Regions from separate parts of the Homo sapiens genome. Here region 1 is linked to region 2. A link means that fine-mapping ties the variant in region 2 to the expression of a gene that starts in the linked region. Tissue or cell type: whole blood. Region 2 holds a variant in brackets; the other region holds the start of a gene. All regions are shown on one strand. Distances are between the middles of the regions.

Region 1 (8,323 bases), 58 kb before region 2:
TCACTTACTAGTGCACATTTCACCCTGACTGCAGCACTATGTCCCTTACAGTCTGTCTTCCCTGCTGGATCACAAACTGCATGAGAGCAGCGCTTGTATCTTTTTTTTTTTTTTTTTTTTTTTTTGGAGACGGAATCCCACTCTGTTGCCAGGCAGGAGTACTGTGGCGTGATCTCAGCTCACTGCAACCTCCGCCTTCCTGGTTCAAGTGATTCTTCTGCCTCAGCCTCCCGAGTAGCTGGGATTACAGGCACGCGCCATCACGCCAGGCTAATTTTTGTATTTTTAGTAGAGATGGGGTTTCACCATGCTGGCCAGGCTGGTCTTGATCTCCTGACCTCGTGATCCACCCGCCTCGGCCTCCCAAAGTGCTGGGATTACAGGCATGGGCCACTGTGCCTAGCCATAGCTTATTATTTTATCTTGATCTCCCCAGTGCCTAGCACAAAGCCTGACATCTACTACACGTGGCATGAACTGATCATCATGTAGGCCAAAGTAGTCTGACTTCTTTCTTTATAGGACTTTTTTGTTGTTGTTTTTTAAGTATTCTCGGGAGTTAGGAGGCTTAGGGCTGTGTCTTTGAAATGTAGATAGTGTTCTTCTTCATTTGAACTTGCAGATCAACACCCATCCTAGCCTATGTAGGATATTTAGGAAGGAGTACTGAGTGCATTCTCCTCATCAGGGCAGGAAAGCAGCCTTGTGGAAAAAAGAAAATCATGAGGGCAAATTCATGTTTTGTTTCTCTTTGTGACATTATGTCAAATGTACTCTTTTTGTCTCACAGTGAGATGATCATGTTCTCAGCCCTATTAAGCCCAATGCCCCTTTTTTATTATAAATATTTTGAAATGCCCCCTTTTCCGTCCCAAAATGGAATCATAGAAATTACAACCTACCTACACGTATAATCTAGAAAATCAATGTGAGCCCTAACAATATCATAGAGAAATAAGAATAATTTATAACAAAATAATTTAAATATTTGAGCACAGCCACACCAGAAGACAAAATGAAACAGACACTTGCACCCATGCCTAGAATCACTACGAAGGTGACATTCTAACAGACTGTTGTGTCAGTGACTTAAATGTTTGTTACACTGGTTGATGACAGCAATGTAAATTTCTCAAATGGTACACATTTTAGAATGTTAATTTTCAAACAAATTTTCTCAATTTACCCTGGAAAATATAGTTTATATTAAAATTTGTGCAAAATATACTTGCTGTTTACAAGTGAAAGTGAGTCAGGTTCTAGGCCCTGATAGTTGCTCTTTACCTACCCTGGTGTCTGAGGAACACTCCAGAAGTGTATGGAATGCAGGACAGGTTTTGATTGTTCTCGCCAGGGCATTGCTCGCCATCCAGCATCCCTGGCTGCCATCACTCAGTGCCACTGTGACAACCCAAAGTGTCCCCACAGATTCCTCCAACTCTACTTAGGGAGTGCTGTCTCCTGTGGAGAATCATTGCTCTGAGATTCCACCAAAAGATATAAATCAGACCAAAGGAAAAGCCAAAGTTTTTAAGCATGGTATCTAGACAAGGCAACTCACATGACAATAAGACACAAAACTTTCTCACTCAAGATAGCAGGTTTGGTTTGGTTTGATTTTTAACTCAAGTTTGATAGTGTGACCAACATCATGTTAGGCCTTGTGAGAGACAGAAGTTGGGAAGAAACACCCCCCACCCCCCTCCACACACACACGGACACACACGGTCCCTGCCCTCAAGGACTTCCAGTCTAGTAAGTAAGTGGCAACAGCTACAGTACAATCCAGGTCAGCGAAAAATGGAGCCTAAAACAGAGCAAAGAAAGACGCAGGTACGTATAAGAAGTGGGGCCCCTGGGCCTCACAGTGGGCACTTTACCCCGGGTTGGATTTCATGGAGGCCCCTCCGGCCGTGTTGTCCGCAGGGTACGATTTTATGAAGGCTCTGAGTTGGTGGCTGACTCTGGCGTCACCATAGACACCACAATGCGTGGAGGCCGACTTGGCGTTTTCTGCTTCTCTCAAGAAAACATCATCTGGTCCAACCTCAAGTATCGCTGCAATGGTAATGTGCATTCTCGTTACTGTTCAACATTGTTACTAGAATTAGTCAAACACTGCCACCTTATTTTTATACCGCACTTCCCCCCCAAAAGCCCAACGCTCATACCACATAGTCATTAAAACCTGATAGTCCCTGTGTACCAGAAGTAAAAAGCAGATCACATTTATCCTATTTTATCCATGTGGAAATTAAGACCCATAGAATTTAACTGCATGGTTTAGGGTTTGGGGTTCAGTGAGAAATCCAGTCAGATTTAATTTACAGGAAGCCTTTATTTTCATGTGGTTAAAACATAATCACAGATGCAAAATCCATTCTGCCTGCTGATTTTCTGCACGGCCGGGAAGGAGCACTCCTGGGCTTTAAGCCAACGGTTTGCAAAGCAGCCTGCAGGAGAAAATGGCGGCGAGGGCCTGCGGGGCGTCCTGGGCGGGCTAACAGCGCCCCCTACAGGACGCCTGAGCCGCGGGCGGGGGTCCGGGGTCCGGGGTGGAAGGAGCCTCGCTAACCTCCCTGTGCCCATTCCTATTGCAGACACCATCCCTGAGGACTTCCAAGAGTTTCAAACCCAGAATTTCGACCGCTTCGATAATTAAACCAAGGAAGCAATCTGTAACTGCTTTTCGGAACACTAAAACCATATATATTTTAACTTCAATTTTCTTTAGCTTTTACCAACCCAAATATATCAAAACGTTTTATGTGAATGTGGCAATAAAGGAGAAGAGATCATTTTTAAAAACCGTGTTGCTCAGACATTGCTCTCACGTGGCTCAGGCTTTGAGGTGCCCGTTCTCGGAGGGATCCCTGTTAACTTGCAGGGTGGTAGTTTCTTCTCAGACCCGGTGGCCGATAAGATGAGCCTATGCGTGAATCACAAGGCCCAGGCCAGAGGTCTCAGCTGGGGTCCCCCCAGTTTGCTCCATACAAAACGCCTAACCGTTCCATGCTCACCTTGGCAGCCTCCTTATTTCGGGTAAGGGGTCTCAGAAACACGTGTTTGGGGTGGCACCTTCCCTAGGGAGGCGTTTTTCTGACCTAGTCCTGGGACAGATTTGCCCAATTCTTTCTGATGCTGTCATCCCATCCCACACCTTCCACAGACTTCTATTCTGGCCCCTTCAACGTAATTCTTAAGCTTATTTATATATTTGGCTCCCCCTAGTGGACTGTAAGCATATTGACAATAAAGGATCATGTCATTACAATCAATATCCCCACAGTACCTGGAATGTAGTAAATAGCCAGTAAATGTTTACTGAATTAATAAACGAAGAATGAATGAATGAATGCCTCTTAAAGGACAGTAGAGTGTACATGATCATAAAAGTCCTCCTCAACTCAAAAAGTCACAACATATCCTCTATTTGTGGTACCAGTAGCTGGATGTACAGCACAGAAACTTGCCTAATTTGTACACTAGCCTTTCTTGTATTTCAATTGTAAATCAAGATCCAAGCAAATTTTTATAAATTCTCTAGAAATTTTGTTTCAAAGAATATTGCTGTGCGGTTATATATTTTCTTATTCCAGAATTCCTAGAGATATATTAAATCATGTATGAAGAAAAAAACACCACAGTTTTATCATGACTTTAACAGTGAGAAAATACAATGGTGCATGCATGAGATCTGGAGGATTTCTGGACATCCTCCTCTCATGTACAGCCTGGAGATGTGTGTGGCCTTGTAATCCAGGACATCTGATCTCCTACATCAAAAACTCCAATGGGGCCAGGTGTGGTGGCACTTGCCTGTGGTCCCAAGCACTTTGGGAGGCCAAGGCAGGCAGATCACTTGAGGCCAGGAGTTCAAGACCAGCCTGGCCAACGTGGCGAAACCCATCTCTACTAAAAATACAAAAATTAGCCAGGTGTGGTGCCACTTGCCTATAGTCCCAGCTATTTGGGAGGTTGAAGTGGGAGAATCACTTGAGCTGGGGAGGCAGAGGCTGCAGTGAGCAGAGATTGCACCACTGTACTCCAGCCTGGGCAATGAGAGTGAGGCTGGTGAAAGGAGGCAGCAACCCACACCATGCCCACCCCTGGGGCAGCCTCCCTGTTGTCGGCTGTGCAAGCCCAAGAACGCAGTATGTCCACAGGAAACAGACTCTCTTGGTTAAATCTTTTGTGTCTATAACTATTTTAGAAACCATGGGCCCACAGGAGATCCAGAACATAATTCCATCCCTTAGGGAGCTTATTACATTTTTGGGAAGACAAAACTTGTTATTTATGCAAAACAAGAAACAAAGACGCATGTAGAACCAGCAGTGTGCTGAAGCCAACTCCTACCAGCTCATAAGAGCCAACTATTCAAGTTTTAGGAATATTGTGAGCCAGTTAAACGGTTGGTAGTTTGAAATTGGCCATGGTGGGAGTATTTACACAGAAACTGGCAAACACTACAAATCAGGGCTCCAGAGAACTGGTTGTTAAATATTTATCAGCACACAAGTGATTATTCTACCTTGTCCTATTCCTAGTTGGCCCTCCTTATATTTTTGAAGCTGATGTAGAAAACTTGAGGCTTTCAGAAAATTTCTTGCATAAGAAATGAAGTAAGAAAAGTGAAAATGGGTGGGGTGCTATGGCTCACACCTGTAATCCTAGCACTTTGGGAGGCCTAGGTGGGAGGATCGCTTGAGGTCAGGAGTTTGGGACCAGTCTGGCCAACATGGTAAAACCCCATCTCTACTAAAAATACAAAAATTAGGCCAGGTGCAGTGGCTCCTGCCTATACTCCCAGCTCCTCAGGTGGCTGAAGCACAAGAATCTCTTGAACCCGGGAGGCGGAGGTTGCAGTGAGCTGAGATCGTGCCACTGCACTCCAGCCTGGGCGACAGAGCAAGACGTGTCTCCAAAAACAAAAACAAAAAAAAAAAAAAGTGAAAATCAGGAAGCACTTGAGAGAAGCTAGCCAGTTGCAGACTGACGGGATGAGCTAGCAGGTGTGGTATGCTCTCCCCCAGGTAACTCCCTGGGCTTCTTGGATACTTGTTATACTCAACCTTAGCACAATGACTCAAATTCCTATTACAGTTCCATTAGGTTAGTAAGAGCCTCATTTGAATCTTACACCTCTAGGACTGAGTGGCCATCAGTCTCTCACCAACTAGTATGAATTCATTCCAATGCCCATTCACCTCCTGACTTTTCATGGAGATCGAGAAGACTGAGGAGCTGGGCATGGTGGTGTGCACCTGTGGTCCTGGCTACCTGGGAGGCTGAATGGGGAGGATCACTTGAGCCCAGGAGTTCAAGTCCAGCATGGGCAACATAGCAAGATCCTGTCTCACTTTTTTTTTTTTTTTTTAAGTACTGGGGGAATGGGAGGCGTGGCTGGGAAAGAAAAGAGGCATTGTCACTGTGGGGGAATGGGAGGCGTGGCTGGGAAAGAAAAGAGGCATTGTCACTGTAGGGAAAAGATCATGGCTGAGTAGAATCCCACGGGAAGTGTGGGAGATCTCTGGGGGCAGGATGAGGGCACTGGGGGCAGCCAGAGGAGGCCTGGGGGCATGGGAGCAGGTGCACAAAGGGATGTGCAGCCCTTTTTGCCTACACTCAAGAAAAAGGAAAAAAAAACTCTTCCTTCTCCCCATCCAGGTTATTAGTCCTAGGCTCCAGAAGTATTATGGTGATTATCCTTAGGTTAATTTTGGAGACAGGCTATAGAGTTAAAGAGAATGAGGAAGATATAGAATCCAGCCACCTGCTATTGAAACATCTGTAGGCATTTTTTATTGCCTAGGCTAGAAGATAACTGGGAACAGACTCAAGCAGCAAAAAAGAATCTGGTCCAGAAGTGAGGCCGTGGGCAAACTAGATACTGTACAGCATAAATCTAGGGGTGAGAGGTGGGGTGCCCCTGTTTGGGATACACGCCTGGGGTCCCCAGTAACATCGGGACTGTAAGGGTGGCTCAACCTTTCAGTGGCATGAAGAAACCCCCTGCAGTGTCCACAGCTCCGCATCTTACAGCCCCGCCCAATTTGGTCATAGGCAACCTCAGGAGACAGAGACGCTCACCCCAAATTTCCTGGGGCAGTATAGTTTCCACAGTGGGTGAGGGTGTTTTATTCCAGAGAAATAATTCTAGTACTATAGAATTAAGTATAGAGATGATGAAGTAAATTGGACCCATCATCCTAATATTTTTGTGTGGTGTTGGGGAATTATGTTTGAATATGTGGCAACGTACTTGAAATATCTAAGAGAATTTGGCATAATTAGAGAATGCAAATTGAACTTGTGATTCCAGTATAGAATGCAGACAGATGCTCTTCACCTTAAAATGGGGCTATGTCCTAATAAATCCGTAAGTTGAACATATCTTAAGTCCAAAGTGCATTTAGTACTCCAATAAACCCAAGTCAAAAGTTTAAGTCATCCATCATGAAGTCCAGATACTCCTCAATTTAAATAGGGTTATGTTTTGATAAAAATCGTCAAACCATCATTAGTTGGGAGTTGTTTATAGTTGAATATTTGGTTTATCATCATCATCATTATTAGTATTATTGAGACAGGATCTCACTGTCGCTCAGGCTGCAGTGCAGTGGTGCAGTCTCAGCTCACTGCAGCCTCAACCTCCTGGCTCAAATAGTCCTTCCACCTCAGCCTTCCAAGTAGCTAAGACTTACAGGCTCATACCACCATATCCAGCTAATTTTTTCTATTTTTTTTTGTAAAGATGGGGTCTTACTGTGTTGCCCAGGCTGGTCTCAAACTCCTGGGCTCAAATGATCCTCCTGCCTTGGCCTCCCAAAGATAGTATTTGATTTTAGACTTGTGATTTTAAGTCAGAAGGTAGGAGAATTTGGTTGAATATGAAAATATTGAGATGATTAAGATAATTTCTCATCCATTATATACATTTTTTAAATTTACAAGTTATATAAGCACATAGGTAGGTTTCATCAAATGACAAAAAAATGCATAAATGAAATTTAAATATATTGTTTTTAATGTTACAAATTAGCATAGTATGTCATAAATTAATATATTACATTTATAAATGGGATTTAGAGTGTTTAAGGAAATTTAATTAAGTTTGCAAATGGGACTAAACATTAATCAAAAGCCTAAAAGTGATTATATATTTTGCTATAGAGTAATAAGTAGATTTGCATATTTATAGAATATAGTAAAGTAATACGATTTTTAAGTTGAATTTTTTAACTTAAGGTTTTGTAATTTGTAACTTTAATCAGATACTAATTTTAAAACCAAAGTCACCATAAATTGTGTTTTCTGTAAAAGACAACCTTTCCTTCAGGAATAAGGAATGCCTCCTACAAGCTCCACATTTTACCACCTCGCCCAAATCGTTGGTTAATAACCTCAGACAATTGACATGCACCCCAAATTTCCTGAGGCAGTAGAGTTTCCTTAGTGGAGAAGGGTCTTTTATTCCTGAGAAATAATTCTACAATTGTAGAACTAAGTACAGATATGCTGAAGTCAATTGGACCCATCATCCTAATATTTTTGTGTGGTGCTTGGGAATTATGTTTGTATATGTGCCAAAGTACTTGAAATATCTAAGAGAATTTGGCATACAGAATGCAATAAATTCAATGTGGGATTCTAGTTTAAAATGCATACAGATGCTCCCTTACTTACCATGTAGTTACATCCTGGGATAAACCCACGGCAAGTCAGAAATATCATAAGTGAAAATGCATTTTATATATATATATATATATATATATATATTTTTTTTTTTTTTTTTTTTTTTAGATGGAGTCTTGCTCTCTCGCCCAGGCTGGAGTGCAGTGGTGCGATCTCGGCTCACTGCAAGCTCCGCCTCCTGGCTTCACGCCATTCTTCTGCCTCAGCCTCCCGAGTAGCTGGGACCACAGACACCCACCACCACACCCAGCTAATTTTTTGTATTTTTTTAGTAAAGATGGGGTTTCACCGTGTTAGCCAGCATGGCATTTAATATCTTGATAAGCCCATCATAAAGTCAAAAAAATCTTAAGTCAAACCATTATAAGTTGGGGATTGTCTGTAGTTGAGTATTTGATTTCAGACTTCTGATTTTAAATCAGAAGGTAGGGAGAATTTGGTTGAATATGTAAATGATACTGAGGTGGTTCAGATAATTTATAATCCACTGTATAAATTTTTTTAATTTACAAGGGTTATTTAAGTGCGTAGGCAGGTTTTGTCAGACAAGTGACATAAAAATAAAACATTATAAATGCAATTTAAATTTAGTTTATAATGTATTACAAATTAGCATAGTATATTG
Region 2 (10,072 bases):
TTGCTTGAGTCCAAGAAGTCAAGGCCAAAATAAGCCATGATGTCACTGTACTCCAGCCTGGGTGACAGAGTGAGACTCTGTCTCAAAAAAAGGAAAAGTGGTATATATACACAATAAAAAATTCAGCCTCAAAAAGAAGGAACTCCTGCAATATGCAACAATTTGGAGGAACCTAGAAGACACGGTTAAGTAAAATAAGCCAGGCACAAAAAGACAAATGCTTCATGATCTTACTGATCCATGAAATCTTAAAAAGTCAAACTTCCTAAGTTTGACTTAAGAGATGCAGAGTGTAAAGGTGGTTACTAGGGGCTGGAGGTGGGGGACTGGGCGAGGGGGGAGTTCAGGGTGATGTTGGTCAAAGAACACAAAATATCAGCCAGAAGTTCAGGAGATCTACTGTGTAACACGGTGACTAGAGTTAGGAACCTGGCACTGTACCTTAAAAATTCTGAGAGTAGGCCGGGCACGGTGGCTCACGTCTGTAATCCCAGCACTTTGGGAGGCTGAGGTGGGCAGATCACCTGTAGTCAGGAGTTCAAGACCAGCCTGGCCAACATGGCAAAACCCCATCTCTACTAAAAATACAAAAATTACCTGGGCATGATAGCACATGCCTGTAATCCCAGCTACTCGGGAGGTTGAGGCAAGAGAATCGCTTGAGCCTGGGAGGCGGTGGTTGCAGTGAGCCGAGATCGCGCCACTGTACCCCAGCCTGGGTGACAGAGCAAGACTCTGTCTCCAAAAAAACAGAAAAAAAAAATTACTGTGAGTAGATTTTAAATGTTCTCAGCACAAAAACATGAGGTAATGCATATGCTAATTAGCATGATTTGGCTATTCCTGAATATATACATATTTCAAAACATCATGTTGCACACCACAGATATATATCTTTTATTTGTCAATTAAAGGATCAGCATAGACTCCATGAAACTTGAGAGACCTGATTAACATCTGAAGGCAACATCTCTGCAAAACAACTAACTTGAGTACTTTAATTATATATGTATCTAGCAGAAGAGAAAAAAACAACACAGTTTTAATTTTAAATTTTATTAAAGTACAGAGTTAACAAGTTTTGAGTTTTTTATATAGGAAAAGCCTAGTCAATTCAGATGCTTTCTAGAAAAATTAACATTAAAAAACAAATAGAAATCCATGACTAAAGGGGGAAAATAACTTTCAAAAGTTACCAAAATTCGAATCATATCAGAGACCATTATAAATTTCAAACAGTAGATTTACCACACATATTGCATTTTCAAATTCTAATGTAGCAAAACGTAACCACATAATTTGGCTACAGCTAATCGTTTCAGAAAAGTTTAAAAAATTAGCAAAGTTATATCTATAAAACTTTTGTAGTTTTCTTTTTGCAAAGTAAAAAGGCTTAAATCTTTAATAAAGGAAAACAAAACAATCCTCTTAAATTTCTTATAAATAGCTCTCCAGACATATATTACAAATCTGCTGTAAGCTTTCTTTACCTGAGAGAACTTCCCAGGATCCTTTATCCCAAAGGATTACCTTAAAGAGTTCTTCCATCATTTTACTCATGTGAATATGATTAAACTCCTATAGAAGTGGATTGGGACATATGCATTCTTAATCTGCCCTTCCCCATTTGTTTCTTTCTGAAAGGATTTTGCTTAAGGAAAAAAAAAGCTCTTTGGTAAAGGCCAAATATTTCAACCTTTCAAAATGACTGCCTCTGTGAAAGAGTTGTTGAGAAAGAAGAAAAGAGAGAGAGAGAGAAAGGTCTAAACATCTGTGTGAACAGCTCTCCAGTACTGTGAAGTCAAAGGCCCAACATTACAGAGCGCACCTCTGCCTGAAATACAAAACTAAGTTAACTAGCAAGTTACAGGAAATAGCCTTCAGTAAATTCCACAAGCCAAGTGGCTACTGCATTGTCCCTGAAGAAGGAGGGCCCAGTGTTCTTTCTGGGTGTGTAAGGTCTTACTTAGTTCAAGGTTTGTCCCTTCTTAGTTGTAGGTTGGGCCCTCTTTCGTTTCCAAGAGGTATAGGACACTAGAGTACACCAAATGAGATACTATTTGGAAAGGCAATAAAGGGAGTGTAAAAGCCTAGGTAGCTTAAATACAGGCTCTGGAATTTCCTTCGCAGGAAGGTGAAGCACCAATGATGGCAAAAATTAAATAAATACATCATCTTAAAAAGGCAGAGGGTAGGCTGCGTGCAGTGGTTTACGCCTATAATCCCAGCACTTTGGGAAGCCAAGGCGGGCACATTGCTTGAGCTCAGGAGTTTGAGACCAGCCTGGACAACCCCATCTCTACAAAAAAATAAAAATCGGCCAGGTGTGATGGGGCAAACCTGTGGTCTCAGCTACTTGGGAGGTGGTCCTTGAGCCCAGGAGGTCAAGCCTGCCATGAGTCAAGATCATGTCACTGCACTCCAGCGTGGCTGACAGAGTGAGCCCGTCTCCAAAAAAAAAAAAAAAAAAAAAAAAAAAGGCTTAGGGTGACAATTTTGACATGGGGACAGGAAATTAACATTACACTGAGGTTATTCATAATAAAGGATCTTCTGAGGAATCGGAAATAAACAATGTTGTATGGAAACAGAACCCCAAAACCCCAATAACTCCACCCTCCCCACAACCCACCCCCACTCTATCTCCCCTTCAAAGAGGCTCCAAATACCTCTGGCAAATAATTTCTTTTTCAGACAAAATGAAGAACCTTTTTGCCCAAGAAACTGTGGGCAAAAATAAAACTAACCAATCAGTATTTAAAAAGCTAGACACAGTAAAGACGTGGTTGGGTTTCTGAAGGCTTATAATGGAAATAGTCTCTAGTCTCCAGTCAGGTAACATGCCGCGGTATGACACTCCCATAAGAACCCCCACCCCCCTGCCACCCACTTAGTGTTTTTACTCATAAAAATGAGGGGAAAACTTTTCTACATCAGACAAATCACACAGAGGAAATATTCACATGCAGCTTTAAAAAAGTCCTCTTCAACTGTCATCCCTAAATGTGTCTGACCAGCAGCTTCTGGGAATATACTCTTTAGGTCATGTACAAAAAGGTGTAGGAAGCAAATGTCTATTATTTTTAAAAGATATCAGTGAGTTAATCAAATTAACACCGTTGTTATAGGAACTCAAAGCCATTGGCACAATGTTTCCAGTTTCTCAAATCACAATTGCACAAAACTGTAGATTCTTTAAATCCAGGAATGTTGACTCCTCACCTGAGTATTGTATATCACAATTAATAACCATTAACATTAACTCTGCATTGATAGTCCCTCAATCCTCAGATACATCCACATCTGTTTTGTTCATCCAGATACACGTGCTAACATTTTCAGCTGAGAATAAAATTCAGAGCAACTGTAACTCTTCCTCTTGCATCAGACCAACCGGCAGAAGGGAACGGGATGTCACAAACCAGACTCACGCATCTGGAAAACGTTGTGTGGCTGGGCTGGCTCCAGAAGGAAGCGACGAGGGCCTTCTACCGGCCACACTCCCTTGCTTGGGCTTCCCTAAGCTGCTTTCTGCAGAGGAAAGGGCCAATCACGGCCAGCCAAGGAATACAAGGCCTTGTCAGCTGGACCTTGACTGCGCGTAAGGTCAGTTTCTCAAATCACACCAGCTGGCAGCCAGACCCAGCCGAGAGGACAAAGCAAGGGCTCTGCTAGACCTCAGCAGGAGGAAAACAATGAAACTAGTCACAATACTGCCCAGGCTCTTTACCTGCTTCCCCTCAGGGTGTTTCCTAAAGACAACCCCCAAGGCCCTAGGCCACTGCAACACAGCTACTGTGTGTGACACGCAGCCCCACTCCCTGAGCCCATTCCTGGCCCACGGAACTCCTGTCCCCTAACTGATTCCTCAGGTTAGAACACGGCTTTTCATTTTGCGACTCCAGATGAATCTTTTAACTGCTGAGTACAGAGCTCCTGCCCTAAAAAAGGAAATTTAATGGAATTTACAAAACAAGGCTCTCTAAACCACACACACAGATGGAGTGCCTTTTGAAACTGAATCTCAAACACTCTAAGTAGGGAAAGTTCTAAAGGAATTCATCCCCTGTAATTTGTTTCCCCATGGGTTTTCTTGGGAGAAGGGCAAAGGAATGAATAGAAAGAATTTCACTAATTTCACCCACCAGCATTTTGGCACACAGAAGCCCAGCTTAGGTGGCACTCAATTCTGCCCAACTCATACAGTAGGGCACAGAAAAAAATGACTAGGCTGAGCCTTTTATTCTTAGATCCTCACTTACAGAGAGCTCGAGAAGATTCTTTCCACCCCGAATGAAATTCTAACAGGAGTTTCCACCAAGTAAACCTTTTCCCTGCCTGAATACATCAACACTGAAAATAGGCATCATCTTGGGTAGCTGCCGAAAGTCACGTTTCTGTATTACTTTGCAAGTACGTATTTTGGAAATTCCTGTGCAGCGTGATCTCGGCTCACTGCAACCTCCGCCTCCCGGGTTCAAGTGATTCTCATGCCTCAGCCTTCGAGTAGCTGGCATTACAGGCACACGCTACCATGCCCGGCTAATTTTTCTATTTTTAATAGAGACAGGGTTTCACCATGTTAGCCAGGCTGGTCTTGCAACTCCTGACCTCAAGTGATCCGCCTGCCTCTGCGCACCTCTTTTTAAGTATATTCGGCCACTTCCACACATTGCCTAACAAGCTTCTTCTGGTCAGTGTGTCTGAGATCCTCACCTCAGAAATTCTCACATTAGCAAACCTACTCCAAGGATGCCAGCATGAACCTGAACGGTATGGTCACGTTACAGATCCAGAACACAAAACGACTTCCGCTTTTACAGTTTCAAAGGCCTCAAGGTGGAGAAAAAACTGAGGGGCTGACCTCAACAACTGAAAGAGCAGTGCATGCAGCAGGCTTCAACACGAAGCAGCTTTTCAGTTAAGGTCCTAAAAGTATTATCATTATCAACAGCACAAACAAGTAAGAATGATAGCCCTCCATTGCTTAGGCAGAGAAAACATGAATCTTGTTCTATAATCATGTGAATAACACCATAAATAAGCGCCGTACTTATTGCAGTAACTCGGATCAGGTAGTGATAATAAGGTGGGGAACCACCTGGGGGGTGATCAGACAAATTGTGCTTTTTCACATTATTACAAAGATGTGGGACCCAGAAAAGATGAGACCTCGGGGAAGGGTGCAGGCAGAGAGTGAAGTCTGTGATTCCCAGCATCACAACCTCAAAGGGAAACGTTTAGGGGCCGTGAAGAGGCAGCACTGAGGGTGCAGTTGAAAAGCAGGTGCCTCCTCTTGGACCCTATAAATACCAGGGGCCCTGCAGGCTGAGTCCTGTCCTCAAAGCCCCCTGGGGACAAGGCTCTAAGAGGCGGAAGTGAGTGAGAGGGGTCTGGATTCTGTTAGGCGCTGGGGACTCAAGATTTTGGCATGTTTTTCTATTCCGAGGATGAGAATGACTGGCCCCAC[A/G]AGATATTTTTATCCCTGTGAAAAGATGCTGTGCCCCAAATTCTGTTTTGGCAAAAACATGCAGAAGGAAGTCAACATAACTGGTATCCAGTTCCTAGGGGTAAGATATTTCAACCATGATCAGTTTGGTTGAAAATTTCAATTCCTTTGGGACAAACTGGTAGTTTCTTTTTGAATTTCAAAAGTAAAAAGCTAATCAGGAGATTTTTTTTTTTCTCTCTCAAAGCTTTTTCAGACCCACTCAGGCACAGGGCGCCAGTCCCTGCCCCGGGGACACTGTTCAAAAGATGGCACTTTCCAGGCTGTAGGCCCACAAAGCCCAGGGGACCGCCGATATCATCACACAGAGAACTCCCGGGTGGGGCAGCAGAGGGGAGCGACCAGCGTACACAGGTACAACAGCACGCATATCCAGCAGGAGGCCATCTTGACCCAGAAGATGGACCAGCTCCCGCTGAAGAAGCTCTCGATGTTGGCACTTTCGTAGCTGTGGAAACAAGACACCTAGCCGCGGTCAAAGCAGGAATATATTGAGATACAATTCACTAATTCACATCCATTTATAATGTATAATTCAACGGCTTTCAATGTATTCATACACAGACTTGTGCTACCATCAACACTACCCATTTCCAAACATTCTCATCACCCCCAAAAGAAATCATGCACCCCTTAGGTGCTCTCCCCTTCCCCATGGCCCCCTCAGCCCACCCCCCGCATTCACCAATCTACTTTCTGCCTCTATGAATTTGCCTATTCTGGACAGTTGATATAAAAGGAATCACATGGTCTCTTGTGTGTGGCTTTTTTGCCTGGCATACAATTTCCAAGGCTCAGCCACGCGGCAGCATGTGTCAGTCCTTCATTCCTTTTTACTGCTAAATAGTATCTTATTGTATGGATAGAGCACATTTTGTTTAGGCAGTCACCAGCTGATGGTCATTTGGGATGTTTCCCCTTTTTGATTATCACCAATGATGCTTGTATGAACACCGCTGTGTAAGTTTTGTGGACCTAGTTTTCTTTTTGTCTTAGGTATACGCTCAGGAGTAGTGGAAGAGCTGGATTACATTGTAACTCAATGTTTAATTGTTTAAGGAGATGCCAAACTCTTTTCCAAAGCAGATTTCACATTCAAACCAGCAATGTAAGAGGGTTCCAATTTCTCCACTTCCTCGACATTTGTTATTATCTGCCTTTTTAATTATAGCCTTCTCCATCTTTTCTTAAGCTTTCCAAGCCAAAAATTCCCAGGAGTTCCCAAAGCATCACTGGGAAGCATTAAAGCTCCCTTCTCCTCTCCTCCTTCAGGAAGAATCTCTCCAATCACTGTGCTTGAAACCACCACTCCCACCACCCCTACCCCAATTCCCTCTCCTAATTTTATTTTTCTCCCCAATACTCATCACCATCTAACACACCATATTTGACTTGCGTCATAGTCTGTCTCTCCTGCTGGACTATAAATCCTGCCTCATAGAACCGTGTGGCACATAGGAGCCACTTGCACATCTGTTGAATGAATGATAAAAGGAAGCACAATGAGCCTACATGTCTAAGCTTAACTTAGTGGTCAAAAAAATTATGATACAACCAAAGCTGTGGACCTGTAGAAAAAGTATGAACCTCTGTGTAGTGCCAGGGAAGGCCAGGTCAATCATGTACTGCCAAGTTAAAAAAAAAAAAGCCTCCAGGGGAAAACATGTATAATGACATTTATGTTAAAAAAAAAATTAGCTGGACATGGTGGATCATGCCTATAATCTCAGCACTTTGGGAGGCTGAGGCAGGTGGATCACAAGGTCAGGAGTTCGAGACCAGCCTAGCCAATATGGTGAAACTCCGTCTCTACTAAAAATAATAAAAAAAAAAATTAGCCAGTGTGGTGGCAGCACCTGTAATCCCAGCTACTCAAAAGGCTGAGGCAGGAGAATCACTTGAACCCAGGGGCGGAGGTTGCAGTGAGCCGAGATTGCGCCACTGCACTCCAGCCTGGGTGACAAAGCAAGACTCCAACTAAAAACAAAAAAAAACTACAGAGGTTTATAAATGCACAGAAAAGGAGAAGGATACACATCCTAGCAGTGGTTATCTGTGTGGGGGAAGTAGAGGCGGGGGGGTACCACATTGTTACTTTTCATAATTCCACATTTAGTTTGTATTTTAAAAAAAGATGTTTCCAATTTTTGTAATGAAAATGAAGAAAAATGGGGAAAAAGATACACAAAATTTGAAGTAGAAAAAAAAGGGATATTTTCTCTTTCTGAAAGGCAGATGAATGCTTAGGAGTTCCTATTTTTCCTTCATTACCATGTTTTCCAGACTGTCCATATAGAGCTAACTTTCCATTTTCTTAAAGTTGCCATAAGCATCACCAGTTTCCAGGGTTAAAACATACCCATCCACTGTTAAAACTCAGAACTCGCTTGTAATCCCAGCACTTTGAGAGGCCAAGGCAGGTGGATCACTTGAGGTCAGGAGTTCAAGACCAGCCTGGCCAACATGGCAAAACCCCGTCTCAACTAAAAATATAAAAATTAGCTAGGCATGGTGGTACATGCATGTAATCCCAGCTACTCGGGAGGCTGAGGCACAAGAATCGCTTGAACCTGGGAAGCAGAGGTTGCAGTGAGCCAGGATCGTGCCACTGCACTCCAGCCTGGGCAACAGAGTGAGACTCCTTCTCAAACAAACAAACACGAACAGTACTTAACTCTTAACTTTAAGGCTTTGCTTCAAAAATACCTAAGCAAATGGGCCACTCACTTGAACCAGTTGGTGACGGTCATCATCACATACAGGGAAGCTAGGAAGAACACGAAGTGGAAGTAGGAGTAGATGTAGACGGTGCCTTTCTTCTCGTCATAAATGACCCGTGGTCCCTCCTTCCCCGGCTGCTGCTCTTCAGTGTCTGTGAAGCACAGAGGGAGCCCAGGCTCAATGAGTGAATGTGTGTGTTTACCATTCAGCAAAGTCACGCTCGCTAATTCTACAGGGCTGTCAGTAGAAAAGATGCCAGAAAGCCATCTGTACCCTCTGGCAACTTCAATCTGTGCCCTAAGCACAAAACCCCCACTCCACCCTAGCAACTTCCGTAACAGGAAGAGTTACCTAATGCCACATTTATTTTTATTTATTTATTTTTTGAGATGGAGTTTCACTCTTTTTGCCCCGGCTGGAGTACAGTGGCATGATCTTGGGTCACTGCAACCTCCACCTCCCAGGTTCAAGCGATTCTCCTGCCTCAGCCTCCCAAGTAGCTGGGATTACAGGCACACGCCACCACGCCCGGCTAATTTTGTATTGTTTTTTAGTAGAGACAGGGTTTTGCCATGTTGGCCAGGCTGGTCTCGAACTCCTGACCTCAGGTGATCCACCCACCTCAGCCTCCCGAAGTGCTGGGATTACAGGCATAAGCCACCGTGCCTGCCCTGCCACATTTATTTTAACAGAAAGAGAACCCTTAAAAACCCTTAAAGACGTAAAACTTACTATAAGCTCAGCAGAAAGTGAGAGTAAAACAAGAGTTAGTTCTCAAGCCCTTGGAATCCTCCAATCCACCTTGGAAAGTAAGGTGAAGGAATGAAATGGCCCCAAAATAAGGTGTCAGGACCTCTTGGTATTTTCCAAATCACTCCTTTTTAAAAAATGTGCTCTCTGATTCTCTAAATCTCACTGTATAATTTAACTTACATTTAAACCAAAATTTGGACTGATTCTCTCTACCAGAATACCAACACAAACAAAACTCAGCTATCCTTCAGGAAGAATGTGAAAAGTGTATAAGTAGTAAGTCAGCTTTAGAATAAAACTTTCTCCTTACTATTCAAGTTATTTGTGTCTGAATCCCAAATGACTACAGATTAGAGTTATAGGTCTGCAGTGCCACACAGGTGCAAAGAATAAAAGCGCTCTGCTTACCCTCTCCACCAGGACTGAAGCAAAAACAACAGCGAGCTATCTGTGAAAGCAAAAGCAACAGTCAGGCGGCTTGTGTTCTATTTCTAGTCCACCTCAGCAAGACAACAGTAACCCTTATTTGAACCACCTCCCAGGCCCTTCAAAAGATGTGGACTGTTCTTTCCCAGGTGTGCTGGGTGTTGGTGACAGGAAACCCCATGGAGGGAGATGTGCCACAGAGATCCTCATCCGTGGACTTGGTGCTCGCTCCTGCTACCATGAATGCTGAGAGCAGAGCCTCGAGACAGGAGCTCCTTTACCCTTCCTGGGTAACTGCCATGGAATGGCTGATCATGGCAGGGGTAAAGGCCGTGCCTTTATGGCTCCTAGGGTTAGGGAGGCTTTGTCCAGCTGCACTGTCCTTCAACTTCACCCTCTGCCCAATTTTGCCTCCCCTTCCCCTTCTCCCTCCCACATGTGCTGACTTTTAATAAATATCCCACGCAACAAACTGCCTCAGCCTCTGCTTCTGGAGAACTCAATGTGAAACCCAATGAACGTGACAAGAGCCCCACTCTCCTGGTGCTCCCTTCTCGTGCTTTGCTTTCAATGTTATTTCATTAAACCCTCTTTGACCTTTGCATTGGGCTTATTATTATCCTGTGTACAGCTGAGGAAACTGAGGTCAGGCAGGTTAACTGG

The links. PIP is the estimated chance that this variant, and not a neighbour inherited with it, causes the effect.
Region 1: THBS4-AS1 starts here. The variant in region 2 is fine-mapped to the expression of THBS4-AS1 in whole blood (TOPMed, PIP 0.94).

What each region holds. Positions count from the first base shown.
Region 1 is chr5:80,080,480-80,088,802 of GRCh38, forward strand. THBS4-AS1 (THBS4 antisense RNA 1) reads right to left here and starts at 3,186. Exons shown (of 8, transcript NR_109930.1): 1 at 3,021-3,186; 2 at 1,881-2,058. It overlaps THBS4 (thrombospondin 4), which reads left to right. Exons shown (of 22, transcript NM_003248.6): 21 at 1,927-2,066; 22 at 2,601-2,808. The coding sequence ends at 2,662. RefSeq lists silencers at 2,495-2,584, 3,700-3,914 and an enhancer at 5,347-5,641.
Region 2 is chr5:80,137,854-80,147,925 of GRCh38, forward strand. It overlaps SERINC5 (serine incorporator 5), which reads right to left. Exons shown (of 12, transcript NM_001174072.3): 10 at 9,392-9,431; 11 at 8,237-8,381; 12 at 874-5,957. The coding sequence ends at 5,810. Among named protein-coding and RNA genes, the nearest start is that of THBS4-AS1, 59 kb to the left of the region's middle. RefSeq lists an enhancer at 7,647-8,148. The variant A/G (reference allele first, on the strand shown) is at 5,471.